2 separate regions of the Homo sapiens genome follow, and region 1 is linked to region 2. A link means that fine-mapping ties the variant in region 2 to the expression of a gene that starts in the linked region. Tissue or cell type: lung. Region 2 holds a variant in brackets; the other region holds the start of a gene. All regions are shown on one strand. Distances are from middle to middle.

Region 1 (8,110 bases), 150 kb before region 2:
ATGTGCAAACCATCTAGAACCAGCTCTGGGCAATGGTGTTGCAATTTCCCTCCCTCCATGCTGGCACCATACCAGCCCCTCTCCAATGGGAGCCCAAGTTGCCAGTGACTGTGGCCAAACTCTCCATTTTTGTCTGTATCCTGCTCTCTTTAGGTTAAAAAGAAGGAAAGAAACATGAAAGGCCATGTGCAATTTATTTTTATAACTCAAGGAGTTTCCCCGACTACCATTTTTTTTGTTGCCAGTGGGTGTGCATATAGAAGAGGAATGCTATATCCTGTCCCTAGAAGTACACATGGTGGTCAGGTATGGTGGCTTATGCCTGTAATCCCAGCACTTTGGGAGGCTGAGATGGGAGGATTGCTTGAGCCCAGGAGTTCGGGACCAGCCTGGGCAACATGGCAAGACCTCTGACTCCACAAAAAAAAATTGTTTTTTTTTTGAGAGAGCATCTCACTCCGTCGCCCAGGCTGGAGTGGTATAATCTTGGCTCACTGCAACCTCTGCCTCTGTCACACACACAAACACACACACACACACACACACACACACACACACACACAAAGAAAAGAAATACAGGCGGTGTTTCAGGGAAGGGAAGGTTCTGCTGGGGTCCTGGAACTGTGACTGATGGCCTCAGGGATGCAGGAATAGGCCTTCTAGCACAGCAGCTAGTAGGCTCCCCCAGGCCATCCGCTGGCGTGTGGAGGTGCAGGACCTGGGGGAGGCAGTCCTCACCCCAGCTAGGCCAAGGGGTAGGGTTTTTAGGTCTGTTTTTAACAGAACTCAGAGCACCAGGTGAAGGTGGAAAGTTGGTAAACTGGGAAAACAAGGTCAGCATCTTACATTTTCTATACTCAGCAGAGTGTGCCATTCCCGGTTTCTGTCCTGAGGCTTTCAGAGGCCACAACAGCCAGGTTTCTTTCCATCTTCCCTCAGTCAGTATGTAGTCATTTAAAATTCTTTGGTTGTTCTGAAGATCCTTTTTTTATGTATAATTTTTACATGAAAGACAGCTGCAAAATGCAAGCCTCAGTAGAGTGGGGGAGTTTTTCAAGGTGAGAAGTCGCTGTTCTCTGCACTGAACAGGGATTGAATTTTCCTTGTCTGATGGTAGCCCATCCCCCTCCCCCGCCGCCCCCCGCAGGGATAACATTCTCAGGAATTTCTCTTGTCCTAGCCCCTTTCATTTCAAAAACAATATTAGTCTTTTGTTTTCCTTTTTCATTCATTTGTTTTTTTACAGCTTTTGTAGAGACCAACCCAAGTAGATGCCAGTGGGTATTAAACAAAAACACACATACCCAGGGGACAAGCCCTCCAGCGGTGAGGAATCTCTGCCATGTTCTCTTCCCTGCTGCCCACGAACATTACGGAGACTCCCTTAGTCTCCCCCTCCTCTTCCCCACTGAGGGGCGGCTTGTGGAGATGGAGGACTCGGGCCCATAGATGCAGACCCACTGTCAAATCCAGCAATAGTTCTCATTCTTCCAAAGCTCGAGTGCCATTTTGAGATGCCCTACCAATGACATGCAGTAAAGGACATAACCTCACAGCCTTTTTAGAAGCATTTTGAATATCTACAGTTGCCTCAATTCACGGGGCATTTCATTCCTCTGATCCAGGTTAGAGTTTTGCTAAATCTGTAGCATCCTGAGTAGCACACTAATTTTTTTTTTAGCACACTAACTTTAACTACATTAGTTGAGTGTAGTTGATACATCTGTGGCCTTGTGTCTATAAAGAGCACACTAGATTGTACCCAGCACTTTTGGATATGACATGCTAATTAGATGTATTTAACTATTCATAGGAAAGTGTATGATAAATGACTGTAATATTTCTAATAAATATATTTTGTTTCTAATTATTTTTTTCTCACTGACATGTATCAATATTTTTTCAAAGTGCCACCCTTAAACTGAGTCTGTTTTCAGACCAGCATCTTCATGCATATATCCTTGTCAGGTCACAGTCTCCACTGCAGCTGCTCTTGCGGGTGGTGCTGGAATTTTCCACAGAGGACTGGGCTCCTGCTGGTTCCTCCGCTGCCCGTGTGCAGCTTTCTTGCTCAGGCCACAGGCTTACGTGAAGATCACCCTTCAAGGCCTACCCAGGACACTGCTGAGCTGTGCAGATGTGCACACGATATGTGCAATGTCATACGTGTGACTAAATGCCAACTGAGACCCCAGAAACCACTCATAGGGGGAATTATGCCAAGATTGAGGAGGCAGGGTGATACTTTTTTTCTTTTTCTGTTTTTTTTTTTTTTTTTTTTTTTGAGATGGAGTCTAGCCCTGTCGCCAGGCTGGAGTACAGTGGCATGATCTTGACTCACTGCAACCTCCACCTCCTGGGTTCAAGCGATTCTTTTGTCTCAGCCTCCCGAGTAGCTGGGACTACAGGCACGTGCCAGCACGCCCAACTAATTTTTGTATTTTTAGTAGAGAACAAGGGGTCACCATGTTAGCCAGGATGGTCTTGATCTCTTGACCTCATGATCTACCTGCCTCTGCCTCCCAAAGTGTTGGGATTACAGGTGGGAGCCACTGCGCCCGGCCACAGATATTTTGTAAATGATTGCTTCCTTACGCCTTTCTAGTTCATGTTTTCTTATACATAGTTACATTTCTTCTTTGCTATACTAAAAATCCCTAATTTTAGTTGGTCAGAGAGAGGGATTTGAGACTGAGCTCCCATCTCCTCGGCTGCAGCATCTGATTAAAGCCTTCTTCCTTTGCAATACTCATCTCAGTGATTGGCTTTCTGTGGGTGAGCAGCGCAGGATCTAGGCTGAAGCCCTGAGGCTTCAGTGACAAAATCTGTTTTTCATAATGCTATCTGTCTTAATTGTCCTCAAGAATTAGTATTTGAGTGCTCTCTAGATTCTCCTTTGTCACCCTTCCTTCCTTTCTTTCTTCCTTTCTTCCTTCCTTCTTTCCTTCTCTTTGCTTCGTTCTCTCCTTCCTTCTTTTCTTTCTTTTTTTGAGACGGAGTCTTGCTCTGTCGCCCAGGCTGGAGTTTGGTGGCACGATATCAGCTCACTGCAACGTTCACCTCCCGGGTTCAAGAGATTCTCCTGTCTCAGCCTCTGGAGTAGCTGGGACTACAGGCACGCGCCACCACGCCCAACTAATTTTTGTATTTTTAGTAGAGAGGGTTTCACCATGTTGGCCAGGCTGGCCTCAAACTCCTGACCTCAAGTGATCTGCCCGCCTCAACCTCCCAAAGTGCTGGGATTACAGGTGTGAGCCACCGCGCCTGGCCGTCACTTTTCTTCAATCTCACTGGTGCTCGCGGGCTGAAGGGTCAGGACGGACTAGAGGCGAGCAATCCTGGTGGCACCAGGCGTTCCCCGACCCGCCCGGGTCGCCAGCTGCACGGACCCTGGGCAGATGCGCGCAGCGGCTGCGGCACACGGCGGGGAGCGGCTGCTTGGCCCCATCCTAAGGCAGCAGAATGCCCAGAGCTGGTCCCTGGCTCCAGGCGCAGGCCGAGTAGGAGCTGGGCGGGCAGCGGCGTCGGGCAGGCCCTTCCAGCCGGGCTGACAGGCCGCTCTGACCCAGCCATCTGACTCCGCTTGCGTCCTGGCAGCGCGGACCCTAGGGCAACTTTGCTGCAGTGGCCAAGCCGGGGGCGGAACTGACCCGTACCCCTGAACCGAGCAAGCCTAGGAGCAGGTGCGCCGGCGGCGCTGTGAAGCGGCACTCATGACAGGCAGGCTGGGCACCGCCACCCCGAAACCTCCGAGGGAGGACCAGCCAGCCCAGGTTGGCGCTGGAGCTGCAGCGCCACCTGCAGGCCAAGGAGTCTTTTTCTGGGAGGCTGGAGCTGCAGCGCCACCTGCAGGCCAAGGAGTCTTTTTCTGGGAGGCTGGAGCTGCAGCGCCACCTGCAGGCCAAGGAGTCTTTTTCTGGGAGGCTGGAGCTGCAGATGCAGTGAAGTCACAGGTTCCGTGATGTCACAGGTGGGCAGGCGCACTGGTCTGTAACGGATTGGCTTGGCCTTACCCACGAGGCTTTGCGGTGGCTGTTGGCTTGGCGGTGGTCGCTTGGCTTGGCGTGGCAGTGATCGCTTGGCTTGGCATTTCTGGCTTGGCGGTCCTCCTTTCGCAGATTGGAAACCGCGGGCTATCCTGCTGGGAGGTTGTGGCCGAGGCAGTAGCTCGCTACTGATGGCCTCCTGGGGTGGAGAAAAGCGGGGAGGGGCTGAGGGGTCTCCGAAGCCGGCAGTCTACGCCACGAGGAAGACCCCTAGCGTCGGGAGCCAGGGGGACCAGTGGTACTTGGGCTACCCGGGGGACCAGTGGTCCTCGGGCTTCCCCTACAGCTGGTGGAAAAACAGCGTCGGCAGCGAGAGCAAGCACGGTGAGGGCGCCTTAGACCAGCCCCAGCACGACGTCCGCCTGGAAGATCTTGGCGAGCTCCACAGAGCTGCCCGGTCGGGCGACGTCCCTGGGGTGGAGCACATCTTAGCTCCTGGAGACACTGGCGTGGACAAGAGGGATAGGAAGAAGAGGTAATGGCCAGGCGAAGGATGCGCCGTCCTGTCGGGGACACTGGCTTTCTGGTGCCCGCAGGCCCCACGGCACCCGGGATGGGGAAACGTCAGAGGGGTCAGGGGCCCAGGCCTCTTAGTGAGACGGGATCAAATATAAAGGATTATTACTATTGCAAAAGTGTTGGTCTACTTTACAGGAGTTTTCTTTAAAAATATTGCACTTCCCAACTGTGTTTATCCATTTTCTCAATTTATTCATCAAACATAAGCTGAATACCTATTATACAGCAGACATATTCTACTGTCGCTCAGGTTCCTTCCATCCTTAAGAACTTCATGTTGGCCGAGCTCGGTGGCTCATGCCTGTAATCCCAGCACTTTGGGAGGCCGAGGAGGGCAGATCACGAGGTCAGAAGTTCGAGACCAGGCTGACCAACATGGTGAAACCCCGCCTGTTATGCTTTTGTCTCAGCCTAGACTTAGCTAAGACCTTCATGATAAATTATCCTTTAGGCCCTCGGGGTTCAGTTCAAATAATGTTGCAGAAAGAGAGGAGTTTCCTTTTTTCATTGCTACCAGATCTGTATGCTGAGGACCCTTTTCTTAGATCGTGGAATGTCCCATATTATCCTTTCCCAGATTTGTGGCAGGAAGCCATCACCAGAATTCTGAGTCTCAAGTATGTTAGTTGGATTTAACAGAGCTAAGTCTCATCCATGACTCATGAATATCCATGTATAAAATGAGAGCTTTGGCAGGGTGCAGTGGCTCATGCCTGTAATCCCAGCAATTTGGGAGGCTAAGGTGGGCGGATCACGAGGTCAGGTGATTGAGAGCATCCTGGCTAACACGGTGAAACCCCGTCACTACTAAAAAATACAAAAAAAAAATAGCCGGGCGTGGTGGTGGGCGCCTGTAGTCCCAGCTACTCAGGAGGCTAAGGCTGGAGAATGGCATGAACCCAGGAGGCGGAGCTTGCAGTGAGCCGAGATCGCGCCACTGCACTCCAGCCTGGGTGACAGAGCGAGACTCAGTCTAAAACAAACAAACAAACAAACAAACAAACAAAACTTGCTTCAGCAGCAAACATATACTGAAATTGGAACAAAATGGAGAGAAATTAGCATGGCCCCTGCCTGCATAAGGATGATGCACAGATTTTTGAAGTGGTCCATATTTTGCGCAGTCACTAGAAGTTCATTTGACTATTTGCTGACTAGTTCCAAAGACAGTGTGAGTCAAAGCAAACTGGGTATCACCTAATATTAAAATTGTGATTTTTCACTACAAAAATATGCAGTAAGGTGATCAATGGAGCTGAGTAACACGTGGGATGTTGTGTGCAAATATATTGTCAGTATGTATCTCAGAAATGAGAGAATGTCAACTTGCATGTCTTTCATGGAACTGAAAAAGAAAAGTAGCATTTTGTTTTCCATGTCAGTTGGAGATGAACATGGGGATTGAGCATCCTTCTAACAAAGATCTGCCGATTCAGAGTTTGAGTCTGTATGGAACAGTAGTCCAAGCTAGGTCTTGACATCTATTAGCTTTCTCCCCTTGGCGTGATTGATGAGCTCAGTAATAGTGGACAGTGTTGTTATCTAGTTTGATGAAATAATATATTTATAAGTAAATTTAGTTACAAACTATGAACTAGCTGTGATGCCCCAAATTATAAGCCACAAAGAATAGAACTAATAAAACTAGAACTTAATAACAGTTTTGGAAAACTGCAACATTTGAATATTAGAACCTCTGGAAAAATACACATTGGGTTTTATTTGTGATTCCAAAACCATTTCCTCAATAAAGCTCAAGAACAAATTATTTCATTGCTTCACTGTTTCTCTGAGCATTTACAAAACGTTTTCTTGTTAAATCTTTAACAACCTAGTGAAATAAGGCAGTAAAATCCTTGCTTTTTAGAAGAATACATTGAGCCTAAGAGAAGCAACTTGTCAGAGAATAAATAGCTGCTGGTAATAGAGCTAGGACGCTTTCCATTATGCCAAGCTAATGTGAGTTAATTTACTGAGCTATACTCCCTTCAATTCATGAGTACTTCATCTTTTTTTCTTCTTCAGAAGCTTAAAGAGAAGTTGGTAGAACTCACAAATTGAAGTATATGGGATAATTAAAGTTCTGATATTAACTCTGATATTGTTTGAAATACTCTAAAAATTTAATATATTTGGTATTTTTCATTTGTTTTAAAATAGTAATTTCATTTATTACATTTTTATCCATAGCATTCAGCAACTAGTTCCTGAATATAAGGAAAAACAGACACCTGAAAGTCTTCCTCAAAATAACAATCCAGGTAAGACTTCTGATAGTGAATTATTTTTGGTGGTCCTACCATAGGTAAAAAAGAAGTAAGAGTAAGGAAGTTTTGATCATGAAAGAGCAGTTTTAAAAAATCTTTATTTCTTTCTTGATAGGTTAGATTTCTTGGTAGGTTAGATGTCACAATTATTTAAAAAGTTAATTGTAGGTCATTTATTTTTTCAAACAATCTGGTCTGAAAAAAAATTAATTATGGTCCCTAAAATCCTATGTGATATTTTTGTATAAATAAGAAAAAGTGTTTTTTTTTGTTTTTTTTTTGAGACGGAGTCTCGCTGTCGCCCAGGCTGGAGTGCAGTGGTGCGATCTCGGCTCACTGCAGGCTCCACCCCCTGGTTCACGCCATTCTCTTGCCTCAGCCTGCGGAGTAGCTGGGACTACAGGCGCCCGCCACCCCGCCCGGCTAATTTTTTGTATTTTTAGTAGAGATGGGGTTTCACCGTGTTAGCCAGGATGGTCTCGATCTCCTGACCTCATGATCCATCCGCCTCGGCCTCCCAAAGTGCTGGGATTACAGGCGTGAGCCACCGCGCCCGGCCAAGAAAAAGATATTTTTGAGTTAGTAAGTTGTATGTTTTCTTTATAGTCACCTTATAATGAATTAGACTTGTTATGAAATTGGAACTTCTATTTAATTTTTAAAATAAATGACTTATGTTTAGTAAATGAATATCAATCACAATTGACCCTTAACAATGTGGAATTTAGGGATGCTTGATTCCCTCTGCAGTCAAACATCTGTGTATAACTTTTGACTCCCCCAAGAACGTAACTACTAATAGCTAACTGTTGACCAGCAGCCTTATTGATAACATAAACAGTCAATTAAGATATGTTTGGTATGGTATATGTATTAATATGCTGTATTCTTACAATAAAGGAAGCTAGGGAAATAAACTGTTAAGAAAATCATAAGGCAGAAAAAATACGCTTACTGTTCATTAAATGCAAGTGGATCATTATATAACTCTTCATCATAGTCTTCAAGTTGAGCAGGCTAAGGAGAAGGAGGAAGAGGAAGATTGGTCTTCGCTGTCTCAGGTGGTAGAGGTGGGAGAAAATCTGCTCATAAGTAGACCCCTGCAGTTCAAATCCGTGTTGTTCAAAGGCTAACTATATTACATAGTGATTTGTGTCACTAAAAAAAAGAAATTAGTTTCAAAACTGGAAACTCGGCAATACCTTTCTGGCACCATAAACAAATGGCAATAAGAACTGTGAAATGGCCAGGTGTGCTGCCCACACCTGTAGTCCCAGC
Region 2 (8,110 bases):
CCGTATAGAAAGAGACACTGATCTCTCTTTCTCTTCCCCACACCCACCCCCACCCCAAAGAGGGACAAAGGGGACCCCGGAATCTTGGACAAAAACCTCAGCGTTCAGGTGTCAGGGTGGGCCTGGAGTTCCAGTCCAACCACAGACCCATCACCCTCAGAACTGAAAATGGTCTTCAAGGTCACCAAAGCCTATCAATACCCCAACCGGAGAGGGCGAAAGCCTTATCCAGGTTAAGCAGCACAAAAGTGAGAGAGCACAGACCGGAGCCAGCTCCAACTCCCAAGCCAGGATTCACACCGACTCTCACAGTGGAGTCTCCGAGAACTCTTCACTCTCTGCCCCCACCGTGTGTGCGTGCACACACACCCCTTTCTCATTGGCTCACTGCCCCCCGCCAAGTTCCCCATTCCAGGAGGTGTCAGGGTGGGATTATACACAAGCCCAGCACTGCAGACCTGAGGATCTGCGTGGGCTGAGAAGCTGCAGGAAGTTGCTGACCAACGCGCCAAACTGCTCAGCCAACTCCATAGATCACGCACCTGCCGTGTGCACAGCTCTCGGGGGCTGGGGGTGAAGAGGGAAATGATGACATAGTCTCTGACCTTAGAAGAACTTATCATTTGACCCTGGAGGGAAAACTAACGCTGGAAAATGCAGAACCTGGCTAGAAACCCTAGGGTACTGGGCTTGCCTGCCACGCCCACACCACAGGAGGCAGCTGGGGTAAGCATTACCCCGCTGAGCCTCAGCAGTAGAGGAGGGGGCTGCCCTCCTGGCCTTGATCCCTGAAAGGGTCCCAGCAGAGGGAGGCACCAGCAGGGCCTCAGAGGATCTGAGTTGACAGAGGAGGAGGAGGCGTTTCCTCTGCATCAGTGATGCACACCTGCCCCAAGGTGGCCAAGAGCCAGGACCACTAAGCCTGGTGAGCATAGAGAAGCCCAATGGGCATCCTCCAGGCAGAGGATTCCTCCCCGCACCCTGCCTCCTTCCTCCCTCCTTCGTCCTGCCCATGTCAAGCATGAGGCAGGAGATCATAGCATACCTGAGGAGGCCGGGAATCACCATTGGCCAATGCCATGCCTTGGCTTGCAGTGATTCTCCAACCAGACAGATCATCAGAGTCCCCAAGAAGATTCGCAGCCCTGCTCCAACTCCTGCATCAGCACCACTCAGGACAAGCCTGCTGGTGGGGCTGTTTTACAAGCTCCCCAGCCAACTCAGACTGGGAAGGCAGGAGGCAGCTTAGGGGGCTGAGGAGTGGGGCAGAGAAGCTGAGGGGAGAGAGGGGGCTGCTGCAGGGCCCCCAGCCCTGGGTGGACAAGCCAGAGCCACAGGCTTCAGGGCAGGAGGAAGGAAAAGTAGAGCCCCACTGAGCCAGGACAGAGCAGCCTGGAATCGGGGCAAGCAGGGGCGAAACCTTGGGCAGGATATTCAGCCTCTCTGAGCCTCAGTTTCCTTGTCTGGGAAATGGGAATAACAGCCCTGTGTCACAGGCATATTAGGGGATTTGAGGCCAAATAAATAAAGCACCTGGCAAAGGCTGGTGGCTAGCGTTATGTTTATGAGCAGGTGTTTATAAAGCACCTACTGTGTGCCTGGCACTGTGCTGGGCACTCAGACTCAAAGAACAAGACAGAGAAGCCCTGGAGACATAGTCTTCTGGGGGAGAAGGTGGTAAAGACAATCCTAATACACTAAAGTCAGGCCACGATGGGGTGCTGGGGCCCTGCAGAGAAACAGAGGGAGCAGGGTTCCTGGGGGAGAACGAATGTCCAGGCCCAGGCTCTGCCCCTGTGATGGCTCCAGGGATCTGGGGAAATCTGTGAGTGCCAGGCCCACCATCGGGGGTCCTCTCCCCTCCTGCAAGTTTGACGCCCCCCTTCTGAAGGTGGGGCTGTCATAGCCCTTCACAATCCAACCACAGATCTGCAGCTTCTGCCTTGATGACGGGGTGAAACATTCTGTGCAGTGGGCAGGGTGGCTGTGGACGAACTGTGAGTCCTTCCATGAGTCCCATAGCTGGGTCCCCAGTCCAGCCCAGGCACATGTCCTCAGCAGCCTGGACCCACTTGGGGTGCCTGTTCTGCACAAACAAGGGGCCCGGACTCCTGTATGAGTCTCAGGAAACCCCCAAGAGGGGCTCCCATTGCCCCCACCCCAGGAGTGTGAGCGGGAAGCTGGTGCCTCCAGGGAAGGCTGCAGACCCCAGGGGGTTGTGGGAGAAAGAGTGGGCCTCTCTCAGGGATGTTTCTTCAAATGGTCACTACAGCTCAGGGTGAGGACGGGTCTCTGTTAAGCTCAGTTATCCCCTCGGCTCTGTGCATGTGGGGAGACCTGCCTGGCTCTGCTCCCTCTGTTCCCCTCATCTCCCCAAAACCTTGGTTGCCGCAATAGACCCACACTGCATAAGGGCTGAGGGACTGTTGTCAGTCCCTCAGGTCCCCTTGGGGCAGGCACTGTCTCTTGGGGTCAGGACCGGTGTCTCCTCCTTTCCCTGGACTCAGTGCAAACCAGACGCAGAGCGATGTCATGCCATGGATGAGTGTCCCCCACCACATCCGTCTCCGTAGAAGACATGCTGCCAGGTCAACCCCTGCAAGGGGGGTCCGGAGGCAGCTACCACTGGCATGGGCCTGGCCTGAGAGTCCTATATGTGTGTCCATCACACGAGACCAGGTGTGGCAGCTCTACAGGGCAACCACAGATCCGCAGCTTCTGCCTTGAGGACATTCTGTGCAGTGGGCAGGGAGTGTGTGGACGAACTGTGAGTCCCTCCTTGAGTCCCATAGCTGGGTCCCCAATCCAGCCCAGGCACATGTCCCCAGCATCCTGGGCCCACTTGGGGTCCTTGGACAAAGTCACTCAAGTCTCCCCACCAGCCCCTGGCAACCACTGCCTCTACTGGCTCAGCTCTCTGGGCACACCGGGGGGCTCCCCCATTCTGGCCTCCTGAGCCTCCCACCCACTCACTTTGTGGAGAAGGGCTTCTTCCCCAGCAGAGGGGCACAGTCTGGGGCTGTCTCTGGTCCTTCCCACACTCTGACCCCTCCTCACTCACGCCATCAGTAATTGTGGACCCCAGGCTCTACAGGAGGGAGAGATAGCCCTGCCTGGAGCCTGAGGTGGGGGAGGAGCTGGGGCTTGGCTCCTCTTCCCAGCACGGAAGCGGGGCCCACTCCCCTCCCATGCCCGTCTCCACTACTGACCCCTCAGGCTGTGGGACAAGGGCTGAGTCACTGCTCCTTGGAGCCTCAGTGTCCCCATCCACACAACAAGGCGCCTTCCCCTAGACCCTCCCTGCTTCCGGGGACTATTCAGACAAATGAAGTCACCCTCCAGAATGAGCCATCTGCAGCCCAGGGCTGTTCTTCTGGTTGTGGCGGGGTGTATGGTGGGGGCCTGGTGCAAACAGTGCCTCCCTCCTGCCCTCCATGGCCCCACATTTGCTGCCAGAGAGCAGGGAGACGTCAGCCTCCAACGGAGCAGAGCTTGCCCTTGCTTTGAGTCGTGCAGATGCCGCTGCAGGTGCAAGTCCCCGACTCCAGGCAGCCATCTACCCTGCAGAGAGAAACACTCTCCCGGGATGTCATAGCTCCAAGGTCCAGGGAGGGCTTGTGACCAGCCCAAAGTCACCCATACCCCAGTGGTCAGTACCCACCCCCATCCCTGGCCTCTGCCAGTCCCAAACCCCCACCAACCCAGGCTCAGAGGGCTCTGGTCACTCCCATTCTCCTCGGACCTGGGCCCCA[C/A]CCCCAGCCTCCAGGCACCAGGAGAGAGAGGGTGTTTGGGGGCCTTGGTCTGATTCCGCAGCAGCAGAGACACCACAGGTGCAGCAGTGATGACGTGGCGGCACCCTCCTCCCACTAACCCCCTGCTTGAAGAAAACCAGGAAAGCAGGCCAACCCACCTGGCAGTTTCCAGATTTACTACAAGGAAGATTTCCAGGTGTCAGGCTCACCTCCCACAGACTGCTCCCCACAGCCACGTTTGCTGCCACCAGCAAGAGCTGGGGTTGGTCAGCTCATAGAGGGTGCCGGGAGTGGCTGGAGCAGGACTGTTCCTTCTCATTTTCCTAGGAGGCAGTTTCTACCCTCCCTCACACCACCCCTGTCCCTAGTGGGGAACCAAAGAGGATCCAGACCGCCAGGGAGAGTGGCACTGCTCCCTGGGCACAGCCACCCCATCTGCAGTGCCCCCCACTCTGCCCTGTCCGCATCCTGAGCAACAGCTGACCATGTGAGGAAACATCCTTGAGAGAGGCCCCACCCTTTCTCCCATACCTGCCTGGGGTCCGCAGCCTTCCCTGAAAACACCACCCTCCCGCTCACATTCCCAGGGCAGAGGCAATGGGAGCCCCTCTTGGGGATTTCCTGAGACTCACACAGGAGTCGGGGCCCCAATCACCCAGCCTGCCTCCCCCACCCACCCTCCCTTTGTGCTTATCCCAGCCCTTGCCCACCTCCTGCCCCATCTAGGGGGAGGGCACAGCCCACAGGACAGGAAGGAGCAACTGATTGAGTGAGTCATCTCTGAGGATTCGGGCTCCCACACCTGAGATCTTCCCATCCATTTACGGATGGAAAAGCAAGGCTCAGTCAGGGGAAGTGACTGCCTAACTTCCCGAGGTCACAGAGTTACTCACGGGGCAAGCAGTGGCGACCTAGGACCACACCTGATACACCGCCTCCACCCCGGGTCTAGCGCAGCCTGGACCACCCCCTGAAAATCTCCAGCCCTTGGGAGATGCGAGCACCCCCCTCCAAACTCTCCCCAGACTTACTCTTTATGCTGGTCTAAGCTGACCTCTGACCTGCCAGTCAACAACGGGGTCTCCACGCACCATCTCCCCTCACCCTCACTCCTTCCCATTTCACCCTTTTGTCCCCAGTGCCCACTTCAGCGGCCAGAACAAGGACACATTTCATAGCTGAGTCAACGAGCTTTATTGTCATCACGCAGGGAAGCATGGGGAAGGGACTGAAGCAGGGGGCTGAGGGTGGAGAGGCCGGAGACCGCGGGGCAGATGGGACCGCTGCCTCCCTGCCTCCTGGGGGGCCGGCCAGGAAAGCTGAGTGCTCAGCGGGTGGTCTGGCGGACCTGCTCGCGGGAGGAGATGACCTTACCATCCTGGACCTCTTCCACAATGGTAGGCACCTGACAGGTGGTCACCGCTGCAGGAGAAGCAGGCAATTTAAAGTGGGTAGGGGCCAGGAGGCCCTCGCTTGCCCCCTAGCCCTCATGGACAGGAGCCGGCTCTCTCCCTCGTCCTCCCCCAGGTGCTGTGAGTGCCTCCACTGGCACCTCAACATCACACTGCACACACATCCCTCCTGTCCCTGCCACCGCCTCCCTTCCATCCCATCCCTCTGCCGGTGGCCCTGTGTGAGTCTTGCCTCCGCAGATGGGTTATTTGATTCTGACCCAGTGTGTCCTGCCAGGGAGGAGCCATGTAGACTCCATGAAATCCATCTCCATTTCTCTGCAGTCTCCAGGACATAGATTTGCTCCCATCTCCCCCATCAGACTGGGATCGCCAAGACAAAAACCAGGCCCCTATCTCCTCCATTAGACTAGGAACCCTGGGGCTAGAATCATATCTTCTCCATCAGACTGGAATTTGGAGGACAAGGACCAGGTCCCTATTTCCCATCAGGCTAGAGACCCCAGAGACAGGACTGCTTTCGCTCATCCGAAAGCTGTCAAGAGCAAAGATCATGAGACCATGTTCCTATCTTCCCATCAGATGACAATCTCCAGAGCTGGGACATGTCTCCTCCATCAGACTAGGATCTCCAAGGTAAGGACCAGTTCCCTGGCCCACCCCATCAGAGCAGACAGCATCTCTCTCATTTGATCTTTTCCTGAGTATCAATCCTCAGTGCTAATGGGTCACTTCTCCCACCCCTGCTGAGGGACAGCCATCAACTCCTAGAACTCCTGGGGACTCAGCCCCAGCAACGTGCAGGTGGGCTGCCTGTCCCTTGCACCCAATCCCCAAGGCCTCAGCCACCAAGATGCTTATGTTCTTTCTTGTACTGAGTCAGGCTGAAAGAAAAAAAAAAACAGAGAGGAAATTAGATGTGAGTCTGAGAGCCCCCCCCCGCCAAGAGGCCCCCAGCCCTGACCCCAGGCTCCCCCACTCACTGGGCATCCTCGCCCTCCAGCAGGCGGTGGTAGGTGGTGATCTCCAGCTCCAGCCGCATCTTCATGTCCAGGAGGATCTTGTACTCCTGGTTCTGCTGCTCCATCTCGCAGAGAAGCTGGGCCAGCCGCTCCTCCACACTGCCGATCAGCCCCTGGATCTGGGACAGCTGCATGCAGTAGCGGTTCTCTGTCTCCGCCAGGTTGCCCTCCAGGGATGCTTTCTGCAGGAGGGCAGGAAGACCAGGGGTCAGTGAGGGTTGTCAGTGTCCTCTTCTGGGCCCATCCCCATGCACAGGACTGTTCCTACCATGCTGAGCTGGGACTGCAGCTCGATCTCCAAGGCCTGCATGGTGCACCGGAGCTCCGAAATCTCGCTCTTGCCGCTCTGGACCAGCTCACTGTTGGTAGCCACCTCGCGGTTCAGCTCCTCTGTCTGCAGACAGAACACAGGACAGGGTTGTGTGAGCCTGGATCCCTCTCCTCAGTCAGGCCTCCTCCCAAATCTAACTGTGGACAGAGTGATGCGTTCTCACCAGCTTCCCACGTCCCAAAGCCCAGAAACATGCCATTTGAAATGTTAACTTTTTATGGTTAATCCCTGCGTGTGGGAGGCACAGACCGGAAACTTGAGAACCAGCCAGAACATTAGCCTGGCTCTTGGTGCTAGTTTCTGACTTCTTGAGAGAGAGGTGGGGACTCCCAAGATCTTTACCCTCTGCCTTTATTCTGTGGGGGCTCCCTACCTCCCCACCCACCCCCCAGATCCCAGCTTGAGCTCAGCTCCAGGTCTCTTGATGCAGTGGGTGACCCTGTGGTCCATGCAGCTTTCTGAGGAGGGAGCATCTCCAAGACACCTGGCCGTGGGCTTACTGTCAGTGCTAAGGCCCCTGAGCCCCAGCCCCGAAGAGAGACCTCTGGCCTGCAGCAGCCCCCACCTTGCTGAAGAACCAATCCTCGGCATCCTTGCGGTTCTTCTCTGCCATCTTCTCATACTGCTCACGCATCTCATTCAGGATGCGGCTCAGGTCCACACCTGGGGCAGCGCCCATCTCCACATTGATCTCACCGCCCACCTGGCCTCGCGGGGCGTTCATCTCCTATGGAAAAAGGGGATGTGGATGTGCGCATCTGGACCCATCCTGATCTCTCACTCCCAAGCCTTCCCCCACGAGGTGACCCCACTCCCCACAAGGACCCCTCCTTTGTTCTTCCTCTGCTCTATCTGACCCTCTAAATGATTTTTATTCATCTGCTCAGTATTGCCTCCACCATCAGACTCTATCTCCCCCATTAGACCAACGGCTCTCCAAAATAAAATCTAATTATTAGGCCTATGCCCCAAAAATTTCCCCTCTAATTTCCAAGCTTCTGTGTAGATGTTCAGCTTTGAGAGTTTGAAATGGGACAAGAAGGAGACTTCCTTACTTATCCCCTGCCCTCGTGAGGGAGGCCAGGGCAGGTAGAGGGAGCCTCTGCGGGCCCCTGGGAGGTTCCTTGGGTACAGAGAAGCAGTGTGGTACAAAGAGGAGTCTGCCCTGCACGCTGGACCCCAAGGATCAGGGCTCCGCAGACAGGGAAGCCCTCTAAGGTGACTAATCCCAGTGCGCCTGCTCTGCTCTCTCCCACGGCCTCAGCCATGGCCCAGCCCCAGGGCTCTGCCACCCACTCCTCAGCATCTTTGACCTTCTGCCCCAGCCACCTCACCTCGTGGTTCTTCTTCAGGTAGGCCAGCTCCTCCTTGAGGTTCTCAATGTGCATCTCCAGGTCGGCTCTGGCCAGGGTCAGCTCATCCAGCACCCTGCACGGGCCATTGATGTCGGCCTCCACACTCAGGCACAGGGCCTGCTCTGTCTCAAACCTGCCATGGGAATCAGGGACTTCAGCCCAGGCTGCTTGGAATTGCAGGTCCAGGTCCTGGCTGCTCACCTGCCTTCATTTTGCCAGGACTCTAAGGGGTTGGAAG

The links. PIP is the estimated chance that this variant, and not a neighbour inherited with it, causes the effect.
Region 1: CCDC144A starts here. The variant in region 2 is fine-mapped to the expression of CCDC144A in lung (GTEx, PIP above 0.99). The same link has a PIP of 0.9 or more in atrial appendage, esophagus mucosa, esophagus muscle, left ventricle, skeletal muscle and thyroid.

The regions. Positions count from the first base shown.
Region 1 is chr17:16,686,224-16,694,333 of GRCh38, forward strand. CCDC144A (coiled-coil domain containing 144A) reads left to right here and starts at 4,018. Exons shown (of 17, transcript NM_001382000.1): 1 at 4,018-4,521; 2 at 6,756-6,826. The coding sequence starts at 4,178. It also overlaps the pseudogene RNU6-405P. RefSeq lists enhancers at 720-1,220, 3,008-3,911.
Region 2 is chr17:16,835,816-16,843,925 of GRCh38, forward strand. It overlaps the pseudogene KRT17P1. Among named protein-coding and RNA genes, the nearest start is that of FAM106C, 51 kb to the left of the region's middle. RefSeq lists enhancers at 1-273, 4,424-4,973. The variant C/A (reference allele first, on the strand shown) is at 3,753.